Linked DNA regions of Homo sapiens. The protein of the gene in region 4 purifies or fractionates together with the protein of the main gene of each other region. This does not show direct contact. Each region holds a gene or a part of one and is shown on either strand. Other genes may lie near its edges.

What was found.
Region 1: the proteins of YTHDF2 (region 4) and EIF4E3 purify together in Homo sapiens (affinity purification with western blotting, with the first as the bait; one study listed by BioGRID). This does not show direct contact.
Region 2: the proteins of YTHDF2 (region 4) and IRAK2 purify together in Homo sapiens (co-immunoprecipitation; one large-scale study listed by IntAct). This does not show direct contact.
Region 3: the proteins of YTHDF2 (region 4) and HMBS fractionate together in Homo sapiens (co-fractionation; one large-scale study listed by BioGRID). This does not show direct contact.
Region 5: the proteins of YTHDF2 (region 4) and STK38L purify together in Homo sapiens (pull-down; one large-scale study listed by IntAct). This does not show direct contact.
Region 6: the proteins of YTHDF2 (region 4) and AGL fractionate together in Homo sapiens (co-fractionation; one large-scale study listed by BioGRID). This does not show direct contact.

Annotation. Positions count from the first base shown.
Region 1 is NC_000003.12:71,687,403-71,690,902, reverse strand, and holds part of EIF4E3 (eukaryotic translation initiation factor 4E type 3), read left to right. Parts: intron 1-737; coding exon 738-893; intron 894-3,500. UniProt on the Homo sapiens protein: Recognizes and binds the 7-methylguanosine-containing mRNA cap during an early step in the initiation of protein synthesis. May act as an inhibitor of EIF4E1 activity.
Region 2 is NC_000003.12:10,213,419-10,216,918, forward strand, and holds part of IRAK2 (interleukin-1 receptor-associated kinase-like 2), read left to right. Parts: intron 1-65; coding exon 66-130; intron 131-3,500. UniProt on the Homo sapiens protein: Binds to the IL-1 type I receptor following IL-1 engagement, triggering intracellular signaling cascades leading to transcriptional up-regulation and mRNA stabilization.
Region 3 is NC_000011.10:119,083,553-119,087,680, reverse strand, and holds the start of HMBS (porphobilinogen deaminase), read right to left. Parts: upstream 2,801-4,128; 5' UTR 2,648-2,800; coding exon 2,615-2,647; exon of another isoform or gene 2,524-2,614; intron 1,871-2,523; exon of another isoform or gene 1,788-1,870; intron 1-1,787.
Region 4 is NC_000001.11:28,739,940-28,743,439, forward strand, and holds part of YTHDF2 (YTH domain-containing family protein 2), read left to right. Parts: intron 1-2,463; coding exon 2,464-3,500. UniProt on the Homo sapiens protein: Specifically recognizes and binds N6-methyladenosine (m6A)-containing RNAs, and regulates their stability. M6A is a modification present at internal sites of mRNAs and some non-coding RNAs and plays a role in mRNA stability and processing.
Region 5 is NC_000012.12:27,303,286-27,306,785, reverse strand, and holds part of STK38L (serine/threonine-protein kinase 38-like), read right to left. Parts: intron 1-3,500. UniProt on the Homo sapiens protein: Involved in the regulation of structural processes in differentiating and mature neuronal cells.
Region 6 is NC_000001.11:99,877,861-99,881,360, forward strand, and holds part of AGL (glycogen debranching enzyme), read left to right. Parts: intron 1-2,062; coding exon 2,063-2,186; intron 2,187-2,771; coding exon 2,772-2,935; intron 2,936-3,215; coding exon 3,216-3,317; intron 3,318-3,431; coding exon 3,432-3,500. UniProt on the Homo sapiens protein: Multifunctional enzyme acting as 1,4-alpha-D-glucan:1,4-alpha-D-glucan 4-alpha-D-glycosyltransferase and amylo-1,6-glucosidase in glycogen degradation.

The DNA.
Region 1 (3,500 bases), on a different chromosome or scaffold from region 4:
GTTCATTCATTGAAGGACGATCCTATAATAGCAGAGCTGTACTCAGAAGATTTTACTCTCACTCTATACACAGTGCTAACAGATGGTCATTGGCTCTCTAGCCCACAGTATATAATGCCCAAAACCAGAAAAGGGATTTCTAGAGGGAGGCATCAGGAAGCAGGAAGAATTCATAGGAAAGGAGCAGACAAGTAAACCGCAGAAAGCAGATGAGCAGTCGAGAATGCACAATCTGGCTCCAGTTCGTGTTGGGGCAGATAGCGCTGACCACTCCAAGGTCCCTGAAAGCTTGGCAGGAAGTCAGGAGAAATTCTTGCTCTCCTTAACAAAGACAGCAAGGCATCAAGGAAAAGTTCATTTCAGTTCACTTGGCTTTCAGAGGGCAGGGAATTATGCAACCCATTTTAGAAAAAGTCTCATCAAAACAGAGTAAGAAATAGTCACAAAGCTTTGGTAATGTTAAAAAGGGTAAATTACTTATCTGGAAAATGCATTTGGCTGGAACACTTTATCTAAGTCCCTGGATAAATGTGATGTGACTGCTACAGCTTTTGTGCACTGACTTGCTTTCCTCCAGTGATTCCCCATAGAAACAATTATTTCTTACAAGTTATCTTGTGCCACCTTCTTTTTTCCATCTTATCCTTAATTTTCAGATAAAAAGACTAAGTTCTTAGAAACAGTCAGACTGACTTGGAAGTATCACTCATTTTTTTTTTTTCCTGTCTTCCCCTCAGATGATGAAGTAATAGGAGTTAGTGTCAGTGTTCGGGACCGAGAAGACGTCGTCCAAGTCTGGAATGTAAATGCCTCTTTAGTGGGTGAAGCGACTGTTTTAGAAAAGATCTATGAACTTCTGCCCCACATAACTTTTAAAGCAGTATTTTATAAACGTAAGTGCTTCATTTCCAGTTATTACTTTCTAGCTTACTCTATCATACTTTTAAAGATAGAAACTGTTTTGCAAATGTGGTGAAGGCAGATTTACTTGAAATTTGATAATTCAGAAAATAATTCAACAAAATACATTTAAGTTTTTTTTTTTTTTAAAAAAAACAAGCTTAGTCTCAGAAATTAAAGTAAGATTTTATTCTTGCCTAACTGCGTGGATCAGAAAACGAAATAACAAATATTGTATTTGTTATTTCAAAAATTTGTACCTGAACTCAAATTTGTAATTCTCAGAAAAAAAATTACATTCTATTGGAAACAACAATAACAAAAATGTCATTATATGAACTGGCAGGTAGATATTCAATCATCCCTTCATAAACAGGAATTTATAATGTATAACATCTGTATTTGCAGAAGAAATGCATTCTGAGCACAGGCGTGATTGAATGTTCTACTGAAATGCTAATACTTCCTCATTATGAATGACTATGACACAGAACTGAGGGAGAATTCACGCCTAGTGGTGAAATGTTAACAGTATGAATAGGTGTGTGGACCCATTGTTTTCCATCATGATTCATTTTCATTGCTTTTGTGTGCTCTTTTGAAAAAGTCTTCTTTTTCATAATGAAAACATCTTAGTGCTATTAAACCAATGTTTGGTAGATCAGACTGCAGGTCACACATTTAACAGAGTTAGAGAAAAGGACGACAGCCCTACACATGTATGATAAATTTCCTATATCCAAAACTGTTCCTGGAGTCAGTAACCCATTTTTTAACTACCGTATTTCATTGAATCTAAGATGCTCTTGAAGATAAAATGCTCCATTATTTTAGTATTACTGAAAAAGAAAAATAAAAGGCTCCCAATTAAACTGTAACACATTATTGGTACCAGAGGTCTTCAAATATATGTGTGGTAGTTGTGAGGAGTGCGTCTTAGAATTGCTGAAATACATTTCATTATTGCTTCACTTTTTCCAACTCTTTGCCAAAAAAGGATAAAAAAATCAAATTTTGTTTTGTGAGTATCCTAGTATGACAGGGGATATTAACACTAAGGCCTCCCTGTAAGGAATCATATAATTACAGGCCAAATGACCTAGATGTTAAGCAGTGGGACTGATCTGGCACTACAGATATTCTGAATTTTAAATGGAAGTTTAAAAGAGACAGAAAAATGGCACTGCAGAAGTTGCTTATTGGCTGCGTGGTGTAGAAGTTGCCAATTTGCCGATGCCATTTTTATTCTTTAGGGATACTTTAATTGTATTTTCACCCCAGATATTAATTGAAAGGTCATCAAGGGTTTTTTCTTTTTTTTTATTTCACAAGACTAGCAGAAACTCTATAGACGGAAGTGTATTTCATTGGCATTTATGTATGGGGCTAAAACATTTTTTCCCACCTTTGAACCAGCTCCACACTTGACTCTAAAGAGGAGAACACCAATTTGGGGTCGTTAAGTCAGGCACTTTAGGTTTTTGTCCCACTTCACCAGTGTGACCTTGAGCAAGTCACAACTTCTCATCCTTTACCTTTCTCATCTGAGTATCGAGGAGGTTGGTCTTAGATGATCTCCAAGGTTCCTTCTACTGCAAAATTCTATGATTAAGTTTCCAGGTAGCACATTGGTTAGCAGCAGGCTCAACACAGATAATAAGATATCTGTTTTATCAGATAATAAGGCCACAAAGTGGTTAGGCTAGTTTTTAGGGCCATGGCAATAATCAGATAAGATTGTCAAAGGGCAGGATGATTCACTGCTTAGCTGTTGTGATGGCTCTGGGAAAGAAAAAAGCCAAACAAGGGGAAAGAAAACTGCAACTTGGCCAGTTAAATCAAATAGATACCTAAAGGTAGGGGCCATTGCAAAGTATGTAATACAGAACTGAGGAAGGGTCTCAGCAGAAATTCATACTTTAAGGGCATAAATTGGCATTTAAAAACTCAAAGATTGTTCAAATAAAAATCTGAATTTGAAAAAAAACAAGCAGTTTTCTTTATTGTAAACAAAGCAGGCAGTCCTTTACTCAGCAGGGTATACACTACTTGCTGCAGAAGTAATTTGGAAAAATAAGATTTGGGCTGAAATCTTTTTCACAGCAGGGTAAGCTAAGTTAGAAATGGCCAATGTATGCTTTTACTCTGGTTTGGTTAATAGGATCCTAGTGTAAGTATTCCCAAGTTTACATAAGCCAGGTGACTGTAGATTTTCCATGTAGAAAGAACCCAAGCATATTCAGTCATGGCCTCTAGCGGGTAGATGGGCATTGGGCCATTGATAACTTACATTTGATATGGATACACATTATTTGACTGAGAAACTCACAATGCACAGACTCCACTCACTGACCAGCCCCACCCTGGCCAATTCTGCTAAGTTCTTCAGAACAGCTGAGTGACAAAGGTCTTTTCTGGTGTGAGAATTGTTTACAGCAGGAAGCTGGAGCCCAAATCTGCCCTCTGTGTTACCCTCTCCGCTCTCCTGTTTCTGTATAGGTATAGCTGAGAATGCTTTTTACATTTTTCAGTGGTTGGAAAAAAAAGAAAAAGTATATTTTGTAACACATGAAAATTATATGAATATCAAATTTTAGTGT
Region 2 (3,500 bases), on a different chromosome or scaffold from region 4:
TCTAGTGGGGGTGGAGGCTGCAGGGGTGGGGCGGGATCTTCATGTTCTGATGTCTTTCTCTACAGACAGCCTGTTCAAGTCCAGGATCAATCGAAAGATTCTTCCAGGCAGAGTTGCAGATTTGTCTTAGGTAAGCCTCCCCTTTGTTTAGTAATAATGATAGCTAACCTTTATATAGTGCTTCCTGTGTGCCCAGTCATGTTTTAAGCACTCTATTATATATAAACTCATTTAGTCCTTACAAGAACCCTATAAATGTAGCTACTATTATCACATTATTTTACAGATGGGTAAATTGAGGCACAGAGGGGTTAAATGTCTCATCCAAGGTCACACAGCTAATGAGTGGCAGAGCCAGGATTTGGATCTACCTGGTTTGGCTCCAGAGTCCATTCTTCTCCTGTGTAGCAATTCTATGTGTAGATTAGAATTATAAAGGAAACTTGGCTTACTCCAACTCCTTCCTTCCACATGGGAATAAATCTTCTCTCCTTTTTTTTTTTCTTTTCTTTTCTTTTTTTGTTTTTTGAGACAGAGTCTTGCTCTGTCTCCCAGGCTGGAGTGCAGTGGCGTGATCTCGGCTCACTGCAATCTCTGCCTACCAGGTTCAGGTGATTCTCGTGCCTTAGCCTCCCGAGTAGCTGGGATTACAGGCGTGCGCCACCAGGCCCGGCTAATTTTCATATTTTTAGTAGAGACGGGGTTTTGACATGTTGGCCAGGATGGTCTCAAATTCCTGACCTCAAGTGATCTTTCTGCTTTGGCTTCCTAAAGTGCTGGGATTACAGGCGTGAGCCACCGTGCCTGACTTTTTTTTCTTTTTTAAGAGCTAGGGTCTTGCTCTATTGCCCAGGCTGGAATGGCCTTGGAATGATTGTAGATCACTGCAGCTTTGAACTCATGGGCTGGTGATCCTCCCACCTCAGCCTCTGAGAAGCTGGGACTACAGGTGTGCGCCCAGCTCATTTTTTGCTTTTTTTTTTTTTTTTTTTTGTAGAGATAGGGTCTTGCTATGTTGACCAGGCTGGTGTTGAGCTCCCGGGCTCAAGTGATCCTCCTGCCTTGACCTCCCAAGATGTTGGGATTATAGGTGTGAGCCACTGTGCCCTGCCATGTGTGTGCTTTTTTTTTTTTTAATTATTTTTCATCTGAAACACTTGTGCCTTATATTGTAGGGTATTTTAAGAAATAAAGAAAATTGAGTATCTGTTCATTCTGTAACCAGTGTTAAAAAATAAAGAAAATTGACCAGGTATGGTGGTTTATGCCTGTAATCCTAGAACTTTGATGCTGAGGCAAGAGGATTCCTTGAGCCAAGGAGTTTGAGACCAGCTTGGGCAACATAGCGAGACCCTGTCTCAACTGAAAAAAATATATATACAAAAACTTTTTTTGGCTGGGCATGGTGGCTCGCACCTATAATCCCAGCACTTTGGGAGGCTGAGGCGAGTGGATCACTTAAGTCCAGGAGTTCAAGATCAGCTGGGCAACATGGCAAAACCCCGTCTCTACAAAAAATACAAAAATTAGCTGGGTGTGGTGGTGTATGCCTGCAGTCCCAGCTACTCAGGAGGCTGATGGGAGGATCACTTGAGCCCAGGAGGCAGAAGTTGCAGTGAGCCGAGATCATGACACTACACTCCAGCCGGGGCAACAAAGTGAGTCTCTGTCTCAAAAATAAATAAAGGCCAGGCATGGTGGCTCACACCTGTAATGCCAGCACTTTGGGAGGCCGAGGTGGGCAGATCAGTTGAGGTCAGGAGTTTGAGACCAGCCTGGCCAACATGGCGAAACCTCATCTCTACTAAAAAAAATTCATACAAAAATCAGCCTGGTGTGTTGGCATGCACCTGTAGTCCCAGCTACTCAGGAGGCTGAGGCATGAGAATCACTTGAGCCCAGAAAGTGGAGGTTGCAGTGAGCCCAGATCGCACCACTGCACTCCAGCCTGGGCAATAGAGTGAGACTCTGTCTCAAAAAAAAAAAAAAAAAAAAATTAATTAATTAATTAAAAAGTAAAACAAATTTAAAAAGGAATAAAGAAAATTATAAATAAGAAAATAGAAACTTTTTCACAGCACCTATAAATAAGCACTACTGTTTTAATATTTTGATATATTTTCATTTTTAATTGTTAAAACTTTTTTTGTAGAGACACGATCTCACTATGTTGCCCAGGTTGGTTTTGAACTCCCTGGCTCAAGTGATCCTCCTGCTTTGGCCTCCAAAAGTGTTGGGATTTTAGATGTGAGCCACTGTGCTGGGCCCATATTTTGATATGTTTTCTTTAATGCTTTCTCTATTCATACATGTATATGAATACTCACATGTGTACACACACACACACACACACACAGATACACACACACACATACATCTAATAAAAACTGGAAGTATGATTCCCTTTCCACTTTGGCTTAGTGCTTTCATGGAGTCGGCAGTCACTCCTTCATTCATTGATTCAGAAAATGTGGGTAGTTAAGCCCTTTTCTAGGCTCTAGGGAGTGTACGCCAGAAGCATACAGAGCCCCTGCCTTGGGGAGGTTTATGGTCCAGTGGGGAGACTGACATGTAAATAACTCTAATAAGTATGCAAAAGCGAGTAATAGGATGGCTTGCGGGAAGCAGAGGAGGGCGGAGAGATAAGGCAGGAGGCCATTTACAGCAGTCTTGGGGAGGCTGAATCAGAGCCTGACCCAATCCAAGTGACCCAAGGCAGAGGAGAGGGGAATGAAGGGACATTTTAAAAGTTATTTGTGGCAGTGAATGGTGACTGATTTGATACGGGAGATAAGAAGGTTTCTAGGAAACTGGGTGGGTGGTGATGTGCCTTTCTGGGATAATAAATATGGGTGAAGAAGCAGGTTTGGGACTTGTTGAGGCTAGGATGATGTTGACCTGAGCATCAGGATGCAAATTGACATTCAGGTCTGGAGCTTAGGATGGGGCTGGAGATAAGAGATTTGGGAATATTCCTTATAGCAATGGGAGGTTCCTGGAGGAGCAACATACAAAACAAGATGAGGAGTCCAGCTGGCAGAAAGAGGAAGGCAAAGGAGGAGGGTCTTAGTGAAAAGGGCCAGGAAAGAGTGGTCAGAGAGGTAGGAGGAAAGTCAGGAGGGAATGGTGACTGAGAACCAGCAGAAGAGGATTTCAGGAAAGAACCCCAGTCCTAGAGTCAGGCAGGTGTGGGATCTGGTCCTGGCTTTACTGCTTTCTAGTTTGTGACCTTGGGCAAGTCCCTTAACCTCTCAGTCTCCGTTTCTGGAGATGGGGCAGTTGAGATGTCATGTGTTGCAGAGCAGTAAAGCAGGATGAGGACCACCATACTCGTTGAAGGCAGACAGTTTTCATCTTTCCACCCTGGGGCCAGGCCCTTAGGGGTCAGAGTATGTGGTACCTGGGAGGTTATTGGTGGCGTTGGAGGAGGAGAGGGCAGAAGAGGGGTGGGACATGAGGAAGTAGATCATTCTTTCCGTCTGACTCCTCACACCTGCACT
Region 3 (4,128 bases), on a different chromosome or scaffold from region 4:
AAAAGAAGTCAAGAGGATGAAGATCCCACAGTGGGGAAAGCTGACAGTATTAAGGGTCCCTTAATCTGGCTGGACTGCATGCATTAAGGACTGAGGTAAACGGATCTGACGTACAGTCCTGCTCAGCCTCTTGGCTGGGTGACCTTGGGTACACTGTCCCACCAGGATCTGTTTGTTCATCTATAAAATGAAAAGGTTGGACTCAGGTTTCTTCTGCCTCAGATGTTCCATAAGACTAGGAGGCTGCGCTGCCTAAAGTTCGTGCACCTAGAGTGCTGCCTCTGGTTTCACCAACATGGAAATATTAACAGGCCAGAGCCCAAGTCAAGAACTCAAGAGGACACGCCTCTTCCTCCTGCCAGAGTACCTTGGACAAAAGTATTCACTGCTAAGCACGTAGAACTGAATTCTTCAGTCTAAGACGGAGGTCCCATTTCTCTCTTTTTTTTTTTTTTTTTTTAGACAGAGTCTCACTGTTTTGCTCAGGCTGGAGTGCAGTGGCGTGATCTAGGCTCACTACAACCTCCACCCCTGGGTTCAAGCTGGAACTACAGGCATGTTCCACCATGCCCAGCTAATTTTCACATTTTTAGTAGAGACGGGGTTTCACTGTGTTGGCCAGGCTGGTCTCGAACTTGTGATCCTCCTGCCCCAGCCTCCCAAAGTGCTGGGATTACAGGCGTGAGCCACCACGCCTAGCCTGATCCCATTTCTTTCTACATCAGACAGTAGCCACTGTAGATACTGATACTGTCGACAGTCAACATTCCCTGATCTGGGATGTTCATCCTATGTAGTTCCTTTTTTTTTTTTTTTTGAGACAGAGTCTCCCTCTGTTGCCCAGGCTGGAGTGCAGTGGCATGTTCTCAGCTAACTACAACCACTGCCTTCCAGGTTCAAGCGATTCTCCTGACTCAGCCTCCCAAGTAGCTGGGACTACTACAGACGCACACCACCATGCCCAGCTAAAATATGTGTGTGTGTGTATATATATATATATATTTTTTTTTTTTTTCTTTTTTTGAGGGGGAGTCGCGCTCTGTCACCCAGGCTGGAGTGCAATGGCGCGGTCTCGGCTCAGTGCAACCTCCACCTCCCAGGTTCAAGCGATTCTCCTGTCTTAGCCTCCCAAGTAGCTGGGACTACAGGCGCATGCCACCACGTCGGCTAATTTTTTGTATTTTTAGTAGAAACGGGGTTTCACTGTGTTCCCTAGGCTGGTCTCGAACTCCTGAGCTCAGGCAATCCACCTGCCTCGGCCTCCCAAAGTGCTAGGATTACAGGCATGAGCCACTGTGCCCGGCCTAATTTTTATATTTTTAGTAGAGACGGGGTTTCACCATGTTGGTCGGGGTGCTATGGAGTTCTTTTGCACCCAGACATCTGGGGCCTCTATTGCCGAAGCAGGTGACAGCTTTCTGCCCTCAGACTCTGGTCTACTCCATGTGATCACTCCAATAAATTAACCCTGGGAGACCCTTTGCAAATTAGGCTAGGCTTGATATTAAACGTGGCCACCAAAATTCTGGGCCACAGGGAGCCCACAGAAAGGACTCTAAGGTCCCAGAACTACTAGGTTCAAACAATTCCTTAAGTTCATTGAATGTGCACAGCATATCCAAGTCAAACCGTTTCATTAAAAAATAAAACACTGAGCACTTCTATGTTGAAGCTATTGCTTTTGCATATTGTTGTCGTCTCAAAAATCCTATCAGGTGGACAAGACAGGCACCTTTGGGACCATGTTACAGAAGCAACGGGTGGCATCAAGGGATGAGGTGACTTGCCTAGGGTCACAGAGCTAATAACCGAAAGAGAGTTGGGGCCACAATTCAGATCTTCCTACTCCTAGTCCAGGGCTCTGGAATGACTGCAAGAGCAAAGATCCCAGCCCTCACCAACAGGCTGGACAGGGGGAGATTAGCAGCTCCCCATCTCTTTCTTATCTCGGCCTGGCAGTGGCCTCCACCAGCTCTGCAGTTTGTCTGTGCACAAGCCCAGGGCTCGGCAAGCAGGCTCGTAATGGAAAGGCCCACGGCGGCCTCCCACCCACGGTAGTAATTCAGTAGGTGTGTCACAGCTGGGGACTTGGAGCGTTGGCTGTGGCTGGGAGACCACTATAACACAAAAAGAAGGCGCACTTCTAAGACGTTTGTGTGCAGTTCGGAGGCTTGGCTGATACTCTCTCCTATGAATCAAAAGTGGAACGTGTCTTCCCAAAGGGGCCGTATCTGCATCCGCCTCAGCCCAGCCTCGAATGAAAGGACCCCGTCTGTGTAGACGAACGTTCTTGGTCTGGGTCACTAAATCTAGAGCCGTGCATCCCAGGCCTGATGGGAATCCCACCCAGATGCCCGCAGGGACCGGAGTTCCGTTCCAAACAATCCTTCCACTCTTAACCCAGTATCACCGCTCTCTGATTTCCCCATTCCTTCCGGAGGGCAACCGAGCTACTGGCCCTTTAAAAGCTACTCGGACCAAAAAAAAAAAAAAAAAAAAAAAAAAAAAGATAGCCGTTCTGACCAATAGACGACTGAGGATGGCAACCTGGGGCCAATCGCTGCACGGCTCGTCCAGAAGCCCAAAGTGTGCTGGTCACCGGCTCAGCACTCACCGCCGTTGCAGCCGCATTGCCGTTACCAGACATGGCTCCGCTTGGAAAGTAGGCTGTGTGTGGGTGCCGCTAAGGTCCCCCGGCCCCGGGAAGCCGGGGGCTCCGGCCGGCGAGTACCGGGGACACGTGGGACCCGAGGTCGTCCTACAGTCTGACTCCTGGTCTCCGCAGAGCCTCGCGTCACTTCCGGCGCCCTCCCTCGAAGGGGAGGTCCCTCCCTCTGGGCGGGAATTGGAACATTGCGACAGTGGACCTCCCCATTCGACCACCCCATTCCCCAGCTGTGACATGAGCAAGTAGTGCAGCTTCTATGGCGCTTCCTTTGCTCTGTTCAAACTTAGCTTTGCTACAACCTTGAAATAGGCAGCATTTTTCTTTTTGATACGGGGTCTCACTGTGTCCCCAGACTAGAGTGCAGCGGCATGACCACGGGTCACTGCAGCCTTGACCTCCCGGCTTCAGCGATCCCCCCACCTCAGCCTCCCAAGCAGCTGGGACTACAGGCGCACATCACCACGTGGGACTAATTTCTAGATTTTTTTATAGAGACAGCGGGGAGGTGGCCTCACTATGTTGCCCAGGCTAGTCTCGAACTCCTGGACTCAAGCAGTCATCTCGCCTTGGCCTCCCAAAGTGCTGGGATTACAGGCGTGAGCCACTGGCCCAGCCAGCATTTCAATTCTTAAAATGAGGAAACTGGTTCAGAGAGATTAAAGGTCATGCCTAAAGACAAGTAACTGAAGTGGGAGCACAAACGCTACATGTAGTGAGAAAAGGGCTTGTTAGGAAAAGTGCTTTCCCATGAACATAATTTTTTTTTTTTTTTTGAGACGGAGTTTCGCTCTTGTTGCCCAGGCTGGAATGCAATGGCACGATCTCAGCTCACTGCAACCTCCGCCTCCCGGGTTCAAGCAATTCTCCTGCCTCAGCCCCCCGAGTAGCTGGGATTACAGGCACGCACCACCACACCCAGCTAATTTTGTATTTTTGGTAGAGATGAGGTTTCTCCATGTTAGTCAGGCAGGTCTTGAACTCCTGACCTCAGGTGATTCGCCCACCTCGGCCTCCCAAAGTGCTGGGAGTACAGGCGTGAGCCACCGCGCCTGTAATCATGAACATAATTAACAATCATGATTATTAATAATCACCCAGCTAGGTGCAGTGGCTCACACCTATATTCCCAGCACTTTAGGAAGCCAAGGCAGGAGGATTGCTTGAGCCCAGGAGTTTGAGACCACCCTGGGCAACATGGTGAAAACCTCATCTCCACAAAAAATACAAAAATAGCCAGGTGTGGCGGCACACACCTGTAGTCCCAGCTATTCAGGAGGCTGAGGTGTGAGGATCGCTTGAGCCCAGGAGGTCGAGGTAGCTGTGAGCTGTGGTGGTGCCACTGCACTCTAGCCTGGATGACAGAGTGAGACGCCCATTTTTTTTTTTTTTTTTTTTTGAGATGGAGTTTCACTCTTGTTGCCCAGGCTGGAGTGCAATGGTGCAATCTCAGCTCACCGCAA
Region 4 (3,500 bases):
CTGAAAGGTCAAGAAATTTATAAGTTCTGAACGTATGCTGTATGAAACATAGTTGGTAGTCCTGAATAACTGCATGCCCATATATGGATCTGATTATCACATAAAACTTGTAGAATCCCTGTGTAAAATTTTCAACACTGAAAGTATAGAAACCACTTGAGCAAGTGATTGGAAAAAAGTTTTCACAAAACACAACCAGTTAATCAGGAAAAGTAGGGAAGGAAGTAGAGGAATGAACTATTAATAGGTTCCTGCTATTGAAGTAGTTTGCTTACATAATCATTATAACAGGGAGAGTTGGAGCATTTAGAAGCATAATTCTAGGTAGTTCTTGTAAAACATTGTGTAATTCAAATTTTTTAGCTTGAGCATGTGGGAGCCTGCCAGTTCAGGTACAGACATTCAACTGTGTCTTGGCATAACCTGTGATATTAAGTGCATTTGATTTTTCTTTCTCAGGTAAGCCAAAGCTTAAATGTCTTTGTTTAAAAAAAATTTGGCTAATAATATAAATCTTAGATGAGTAGATGAGGAAGGGTAACCTGAGAATCTAGTTCATTGTCTAGAGTAAGTCATCTACTTTTTAGCCAATTTTTCATTACCCTATTTTGGAATAATACTTCAAGTTTAATCTGTTGATTATAGGCTGAATTTCTTATATATGTGGATTTGGGTCTGCTAAAATTTTTAACCTTACCTTTGTGAGAAATTTTAAATGTGAAAAGGGTATGTGTGAAAAGACCTCACTTTTGTTTTTATGTATTATTTATTTATTTATTTTTGAGATAGAGTCTCACTCTGTCACCCAGGCTGTAGTGCAGTGGTGCGATCTCGGCTCACTGCAACCTTCACCTCCTGGGTTCACACCATTCTCCTGCCTCAGCCTCCCGAGTAGCTGGGACTACAGGCGCCCGCCACCATACCTGGCTAATTTTTTGTATTTTTGCTAGAGACGGGGTTTTAACTGTGTTAGCCAGGATGGTCTCGATCTCCTGACCTCGTGATCCTCCCACCTTGGCCTCCCAAATTGCTGGGATTACAGGTGTGAGCCACCGCGCCCGGCTATTTATTTTTTTTGAGACGGAGTCTTGCTCTGTTGCCCAGGCTGCAGTGCAGTGGTGCAGTCCGGCTTACTGCAACCTCTGTCTCCTGAGTTCAAGCAATTCTCCCACCTTAGCCTCCTGAGTAGCTGGGATTACAGGCAGGTGCCACCACGCCTGGCTAATTTTTGTATTTTTAGTAGAGACGGGCTTTCACCATGTTGGCCGGGCTGGTCTCCAACTCCTGGCCTCAAGTGATTTGCCCGCCTCAGCCTCCCAAAATGCTGGAATTACAGGCGTGAGCCACTGTGCCCGGCCTGTTTTTATTTTATTTTTTTGAGACAGTCTGGCTCTGTTGCCTGGGCTAGAGTGCAGTGGTGCCATCTGGGCTCACTGCAACCTCGGCCTCTTGGATTCAAGTAATTCTACCGCCTCAGCCTCCTGAGTAGCTGGGCCTACAAGTGTGTGCCACCATGCCTAGCTAATTTTTTGTCTTTTTAGTAGAGACTGGGTTTTATCATGTTGGCCAGGCTGGTCTCGAACTGACCTCAAGTCATCCACCCCTCTGTCTCCCAAAGTTCTGGGATTACAGGCGGGAGCCACTGCGCCTGGCCATATTTCTCATTTTACATCCTCCAGAAACCACTGTGCATTTCCTTTTCAGGTTATAACTGAGTAGTGGGATCTATTGATATTCCCAGATAGTTTGCCAAGAGGCTAGCACTATAAACTGGTAGTGAACCTTGCTTTTTGGTTTATGATTGAGGAACGGCTGTACAGACATTTGGGCTAGAACTTGAAATTTCCATTTCTTTTTGTTATTCTTGTTTTATTATCACCTGGTTTGTATAGGAAGTTGATAAAAGGATTATCTCAACACTCAGGACTTAAACAGTTTGTGAAATGCTAAGTTTTCTCTTTACTTAGTTGTAGTGCTAAAGCTAAGGCCCATATTCACTGTATCAGCTTAACTTTAAATGTTTAAACATTTCAGTTATTACACCAAAATTTCTTATGATATAAAAAATGCCCTTGTGTTTATAGGAAATCATCTGATGTGCTGCACACTTTTTTTTTTTTTCCTGGAGATGGAGTTTCACTCTTGTTGCCCACAGGCTGGAGTGCAGTGGTGCGATCTAAGCTCACTGCAACCTCCGCCTCCTGGGTTCAAGTGATTCTCCTGCCTCAGGCCTCCCAAGTAGACAGGGTTTCATCGTGTTGGCCAGGTTGGTCTCGAGCTCCTGACCTCAGGTGATCCACCCGCCTCCACCTCCCAAAGTGTAGGGATTACAGGTGTGAGCCACCGCGTCCGGCCTGCACACTCCTTTTTATAGTATATTTGAATTGCGTGACTAGGTGGGGGGAGGAAATAGCCTGATGTTAATTTTTTGTGTTTTGATTTGCCTTTTTTTTTCTTCCACAGAATAATGCATATACTGCCATGTCAGATTCCTACTTACCCAGTTACTACAGTCCCTCCATTGGCTTCTCCTATTCTTTGGGTGAAGCTGCTTGGTCTACGGGGGGTGACACAGCCATGCCCTACTTAACTTCTTATGGACAGCTGAGCAACGGAGAGCCCCACTTCCTACCAGATGCAATGTTTGGGCAACCAGGAGCCCTAGGTAGCACTCCATTTCTTGGTCAGCATGGTTTTAATTTCTTTCCCAGTGGGATTGACTTCTCAGCATGGGGAAATAACAGTTCTCAGGGACAGTCTACTCAGAGCTCTGGATATAGTAGCAATTATGCTTATGCACCTAGCTCCTTAGGTGGAGCCATGATTGATGGACAGTCAGCTTTTGCCAATGAGACCCTCAATAAGGCTCCTGGCATGAATACTATAGACCAAGGGATGGCAGCACTGAAGTTGGGTAGCACAGAAGTTGCAAGCAATGTTCCAAAAGTTGTAGGTTCTGCTGTTGGTAGCGGGTCCATTACTAGTAACATCGTGGCTTCCAATAGTTTGCCTCCAGCCACCATTGCTCCTCCAAAACCAGCATCTTGGGCTGATATTGCTAGCAAGCCTGCAAAACAGCAACCTAAACTGAAGACCAAGAATGGCATTGCAGGGTCAAGTCTTCCGCCACCCCCGATAAAGCATAACATGGATATTGGAACTTGGGATAACAAGGGTCCCGTTGCAAAAGCCCCCTCACAGGCTTTGGTTCAGAATATAGGTCAGCCAACCCAGGGGTCTCCTCAGCCTGTAGGTCAGCAGGCTAACAATAGCCCACCAGTGGCTCAGGCATCAGTAGGGCAACAGACACAGCCATTGCCTCCACCTCCACCACAGCCTGCCCAGCTTTCAGTCCAGCAACAGGCAGCTCAGCCAACCCGCTGGGTAGCACCTCGGAACCGTGGCAGTGGGTTCGGTCATAATGGGGTGGATGGTAATGGAGTAGGACAGTCTCAGGCTGGTTCTGGATCTACTCCTTCAGAACCCCACCCAGTGTTGGA
Region 5 (3,500 bases), on a different chromosome or scaffold from region 4:
GGTGACAAGACCGAAACTCCATCTCAAATATATGTGTGTGTGTGTGTGTGTGTGTGTGTGTGTGTGTGTGTTTATAAAATTCCTGAAATACCAACACTGGCAAATTCCTGCTTTCTTTAAGGGAAGCTACTTAAATATCAGTTTTAACGGAGCTAAAATTACATTGATATAATTAAGAAAACAAATGTGGCCTGAAACAATAGTGAAGACTATTTTTTGCTGCTTTTTACCTAAATGCAATGACAAATACCCTTTTTTGCACATAGGTGTTCAAAAATACCTTTTGAATAATAAAAAAATAAATTACTAGTAAAACAAAAGAGAGCTCTAAAAAGTATCTGATTTTAAATTTTAAGACTAATTTTTAAAAGGCCACTTGGTGGCACTATAGTATCATGTCCTTTAAGGAAGTAGTGAGGAGGGTTTTTTTTTAATTACATAAAAGAATAAGAATTTTGAAAGTATTTTGAATCTCTCCCTTTATAGATTATAAAACAGTACAGTTGGATATAGTTGCAGAAATCCTGCTTAATCTGAATGGAAAAGATGACATCACTATACACAGTTTCATAAATTGTCTAGTAGTTTGTATAATGCAGCACTCACACAATTTATGTGGTTTTGGGCCCAGCCATTTAATAGCAAAAAGAGAGAGTCACAAGTGTATGGAACACATAATTCTATAAAAATGAGCATCACCTATAACATTGTTACATTAGTTAAAAAAAATTGATTCCATGATTTTAGTCTTAGAATCAGTGTTGCAGTCCAGAGGTAGCTGAATCAAATTCATGTTAAAAAAAAAATTGGTGAAAAAGCCTGTTGATATATCTACTCACAACCTGTATAGATTAAGTAGCCTTGAAAGACAAACAGTATCCTTGTGGTAATTGCATCCTTTCCTCTTCAAAGAAGACAATAAAAATCTGTGGACAGCTTAACATTTCACGACTCTCTTTTATAGCTTGAACTTGCCTATTTAGTTTTTCATTAGAGTAAATAACATTCCATGTTGGATGGGATTTTCTTAAGTGAGATGAAACTAGAAAGTGCTTTTCTTCCTTTCTCCATTCCTTTTTATATAGGTGTTCCTCAAACTCTCCATCTGTAGGGTGGCCAGTATTTGTATAAGACAGACAGTGCATACAAAATTTTTCAGATGAAAAGGGTTCAGCTAGCAACTTTATCTATTTTATTTTTATGAGACAATTTTATTTTTTATCAAACCCACCCCATATAAAGATGCTGTAACATACTTTATATTAAGGTTGAGAGAGCTTGTCTATTTTACAGAATTTGATATAATCCAGGCTCTAGCATGGAGCCTAATAATAAGCACCTGTGGAATTAAAAACATTTTTTAGAGAAAAACATTAGAAGTTTTATAAACTGGTATTATGGGCCACTGACTATTTTTTATGGAAAAATCATCTCCTATTTTCTACAAGTTATTCAGAAAAATTAGAGAAAATAGCTGTAAATGTAGTCAGTACTTGCTGATGCAGACCAGAAGTTGCAAACAGGAAGCTACAAACTATATTCAACCTACAGATATATTTGATTTGGACTGCAAGTTGTTTTTCAAAAGCAGGTGATTGGTTATTCTGCAAAAAAAGTCCAGATTACTAGCTTCTCTGGAAAAACAGGGCCTTGGCCACAGGGGCCAATGGTAGCAATCCTCTTTAGATGAGCCTTGGTTCCCTAATTTGTCAGTCCCCACCACTGATGCGAGTCCCTAGGAGGCATGTCCACATGGGCTGGGACTCTTATTACAGCAATGTGAAAAGTGGCATGTCTTTGCCAACAGATAAACTGTAAGGATCAATATTTAAGAAAATAATATTTTTTAAAAAGGAAAAATATTAATCTATTTCTTTGTGGAAGCAAAAAAAAAATCATATAAGTTGAATATGTAAACAAAGTATATCTGGATCAAAAGAATATAACCCTAGATGCCACTATGAAACCAACCTGGCCAGCTTATCTCACTTCCGTTGCCTGCTTAGTGTTTGGGCATCTGTTTTTGCAGTCTCTTCCCCTACACTTCAAATTAAGATCTTATGTTTAAGATTTCTATATCAATATAATGATGTATAATATATAAATGCAATTATATGGTTATTAATTATAAGAAATTTATAATTCTAACTTTAAAATGAGGAAAGATATGCTCAGTCTTATTTTTTCTCTATAGATTGGAATACAGATTTAAATCACTACCTTTCTCACTAAAATTTAAAGGACATAAATGAGCTTTTAAAATATTAATGACATGTAAATAATGATAGATAATTTTAAATGTAAAAACATCTGAGTTTTCTAGATTGAGTCAACTGATTAACAAAGTTACCACCTTTAGTATAAGTCATAAAATATTGTATTTGATTTAAACATTGCAACTATAAGGAACAGCTACAGTCCTAGGAAAGGTACAGGGAAGATTAGATACTGATTTGATTTCAATTAATCATTTGATGATGGTCTACTCTTTAAATATAGAAACTCTTTTTTTTTTTTTTTTTTTTTTGAGACAGACTCTCACCCTGTCACCCAGGCTGGAGTGCAATGGCATGATCTCAGCTCACTGCAGCCTCTGCCTTCTGAGCTCAAGTGATCCTCCCACCTGAGCCTCCTGAGTAGCTGGGACTACACACACAGGACACCATGCTTAATTTTTAAAATTTTTTGTAGAGACCAGGTCTTACTATATTTCCCAGGCTGATCTTGAACTCCTGGGCTCAAGTGATCCTCCCATCTTGGCCTCCCAAAGTGCTGGGATTACAGGTGTGTGCCACTGCACTCAGCATGTTAAACTAATTAATCTGGGTTGTGACTCCCTATTGCCTAGTACTAAAGTATACCTTTTTTAGTAAACTATTCTAAACCTAGCTTTCCATGGTGTGCTATCAACTTACCTCACTATTTCCTTTTATTGCACCCTTTATAGCTCAAATGTAAACTCATTATTCTGTACATGTATTCATTATTTTGTATACATCCCTTACCTCTAATGTAAATTCTACCCATTCTTTACAATTCAAATCAATTATTACTTCTTCTATGAAACATTTTCTGATCCTCTGAATTAGAGGAAAAATCTTCTCTATATTTTCAACGTTCACCACATTCTATCATGCGTACATATTTTTACACACACACACTCACTCACTCTCCCTCTCCTAATCTAAAACTCCTTGAGGGCAAAAGCCATTATTTGTTTATTCACCAAATATTTATTCTAGCTCTCTGCCAGACAGCTGTGGAGATGTAATGCTCAACAAGATGTTACAGTGTCTAGTCTTTGGGAAGACTGTATTTTAAGGCTCCCATGGGGACAGGAACAGTAGAATACAGAAGGTACCTTGAGAGGTTAAGGAAGATTTCCCAGTGGAAGTGATGCCTGAAGTGAGGCCTAAAGCTGCTGCTTTGCCCAGGCTGGAGTGAAGTGACATGATCATAGCTCATGGCAACCTCAAACTCTCAGGCTCAGGTGATCCTCC
Region 6 (3,500 bases), about 71 Mb from region 4:
AGAAATTCAGTGTTCCTTCCTAGCTTTCCTTAAGTAAACTATGCAGGTAAATGTTTCCTTTTGCTAGTTGGACACAAGCATTGATTTGGTGGTAGTATTTATCACTATTGCATAATTAGCATAATTCTAACAATCTTTTGCAGTTGTTATGGAATACTGGGCTATAAAATATTTAACTAGCTAATTTTAAAATTTTAATTTAGGGAAGTTGATCACGTTTCTGATAATATGGAGTGCAATCATATTGGCTACTGTGAATACATAAAATGTTAATTTTTGTTATTTTTAGGTTGCTTTCAATATATTTTAGAAGTGACTGTGAAGGTGAATAGCTTATTACACATTATAGTGGTGTGTGCCTATAGTCCCAGCTACTCGGGCGGCTGAGGCAGGAGAATCACTTGAACCCAGGAGGTGGAGGTTGCAGTGAGCCGAGATCACACCACTGCACTCCAGCCTGGCGACAGAGTGAGACTCTGTCTAAAAAATAAATTAATTAATTAAATTAAATAAAAAATAAACATTAACATTATAGCATATTGAAGCCAGTCTAGCCTCATCGATTTAATTTTTATTATTTATAAAAATTATAAGTGTAAACATAAACATTGTCTATTTCTCTTTGAGCTCTTTACAATAACTTCTGAACAATGCCAATACTTATAGTATTAACTTCTATCTAATACAATCTTTGTAATTAAACTCATAATTTTCATCCTGCTTATAAGTTTTTTTTGTTATTTTTAGAAACCCTACAGTGGCACTGCTTATAAGATTTTTGATACCTTACTAGTGACCAGTGTCACTTAGGTGTTCTTTGGAAATGTGTGCTTACCTAAAAAATGTCTATTTCTATAATATTAAAGCAGTATTATAATATATATTTCAAGTCCTATGATGAAAAATTGATTTGATTTGGAGGGATTTAGTGAATATTAGTTAAGCTGGTAGAACATTGTTTAGTTCCAAAAAATGACGGCTTTATTTTATTGTGCTTTTAGCAATAGCAAAAAGAAATATGCTTCTAAGATTGTTACATGGCAGAAAAGAATGTTCAAACTTAATTTACTTAATTTTAAATTACAAAATCTAGGATTCTACTTGTTAGCTAATAGAGTTTCAAGTATTTTATTAATCTTTGTGCAAATGTTGTGTTTAACAGTTTGGAACCAATCTGATTTTTTATTATAAACCAGTGTTTATAATAAACAGCTAGATAGATAGCACCAGTGTTAAACGTAAATCACACAAGTGGAAATTGTAAGGTGTAAGAGTTTTTAAGAGTTATTTATCATCATCTGTAGGAGAAACTGGCTTCAGTCTGGTCAGACAAATCTAATCTTTCCAACAGCTAAGTAATTCACCAGCAGGGAATTTATGAATAATTATTTAGTCAACCACCTGGAAATTAAGTCTGATTAAAGTTTTAAAAATAAGCAAGCAGGCCCAGGCACGGTGGCTCACGCCTGTAATCCCAACACTTTTAGGCTCAGGCAGGCAGATCAGCTGAGGTTGGGAGTTTGCAACCAGCCTGACCAACATGGAGAAACCCCATCTCTACTAAAAATACAAAATTAGCTGGGTGTGGTGGTGCGTGCCTGTAATCCCAGCTACTCGGGAGGCTGAGGCTGGAGAATTTCTTGAACCTGGGAGGCGGAGGTTGTGGTGAGCTCACATCATGTCATTGCACTCCAGCCTGGGCAACAAGAGCGAAACTTGGTCTCAATAAATAAATAAATAAATAAATAAGCAAACAAAAAACAGGGAGAAAACCTAACAGAATTGTAGTGTTATGATTTACATTTAGTAATATGAAACTAACATTTTTCTTCTTCTTTTCCTCTCTCATGTCTCAATATCTTTGCAAAATCTAATCTTCCTTTTTAACCGTTTTCTTCTCTTGATAAATTCTCTTGTTTCTATGTGTTTTGGTATGTTTGATATCTTGCTGCATATTTTTCTATGTCAAATCATGCCTCCTTTTGTCTCTTTCCTTCCTCCTATCTTGCTTTTCTCTTTCTGTTACATTTATTTGTTACATTTGTCACTGTGCTTTTTACAGTACATGTTGGATGCTGCTAGGAATTTGCAACCCAATTTATATGTAGTAGCTGAACTGTTCACAGGAAGTGAAGATCTGGACAATGTCTTTGTTACTAGACTGGGCATTAGTTCCTTAATAAGAGGTAGGCTTGTTGGAGTGTATTTCCCTCTAAAACTTTAGCTTTTGTTTAAGTAGATTAAAGGATTTAATAGCTTCATATGCAATGCTTAATAATTTTTTAACACAGTTAATGTTCTTCTAAATACTTTGTATGACATATTCTAATATAACTCAGTCTATTTTTATCAGTATAAATTTCTACTTTGGGGTAAGATACCTCATTTCAAATTGAAAGACCAGTAGGATGAACTGAAGACTCACTAACAAAACCATTTTTTGTTGTTGAAAATATGCAAACCTGTTTTTCATCTTCTACTGGGAGATATGATGTAATGTTTAGATGTTTTATAATCAATTTTGTATAGCTTACATCCCAGTAAACAACATATGTTCCCTTTTCCTTACATGAGCCATTTCTCCAGTTAAGTTATGGGGAAAACTTTTTTGTCACTTAAACTAGTAGACATTTGTTTAAATCCTTAAAGCAGTTTTATTTTTTATAATATTGATGTGGTCTTTATTTTGAAAATCATTTATGAGAAGAAATCTAACCTCTTCCTGGACATAAATAATGAAGATTGTTAAAATATTCTGTAATGCTCTGCAGAGGCAATGAGTGCATATAATAGTCATGAAGAGGGCAGATTAGTTTACCGATATGGAGGAGAACCTGTTGGATCCTTTGTTCAGCCCTGTTTGAGGCCTTTAATGCCAGCTATTGCACATGCCCTGTTTATGGATATTACGCATGATAATGAGTGTCCTATTGTGGTAAGCACCTAATCTTTTTCATGTACTTATTTTGCTAAATGCTTTGATATTTAACTCTCTGACACTTGGTCACAATCATACCCATATACTTCAAAATAGTGTCTTAGATTTATAACTGATTTATAATACATAGTTTTCAGAATGTTTTACTTGTTTAAAAGCAAATTAATTTACCTTATGAATTTATTTATGTAATTATCCTTTTACTTCATTATGCTATAGAATAGCACTTTGCATTTGAAAGAAAGCAAACTTTTGCTTTGTTGTTGTTGTCTTCTAGCATAGATCAGCGTATGATGCTCTTCCAAGTACTACAATTGTTTCTATGGCATGTTGTGCTAGTGGAAGTACAAGAGGCTATGATGAATTAGTGCCTCATCAGGTTTGTTTATATGTTGTTTCTTAAAACCTACATGGCCAACAACTTTGGGCATTTTTATTAAAAAAAATTCATTGTAATTAAGATGTATCCATGCTAAATTTTACCTTTGTCCAGATTTCAGTGGTTTCTGAAGAACGGTTTTACACTAAGTGGAATCCTGAAGCATTGCCTTCAAACACAGGT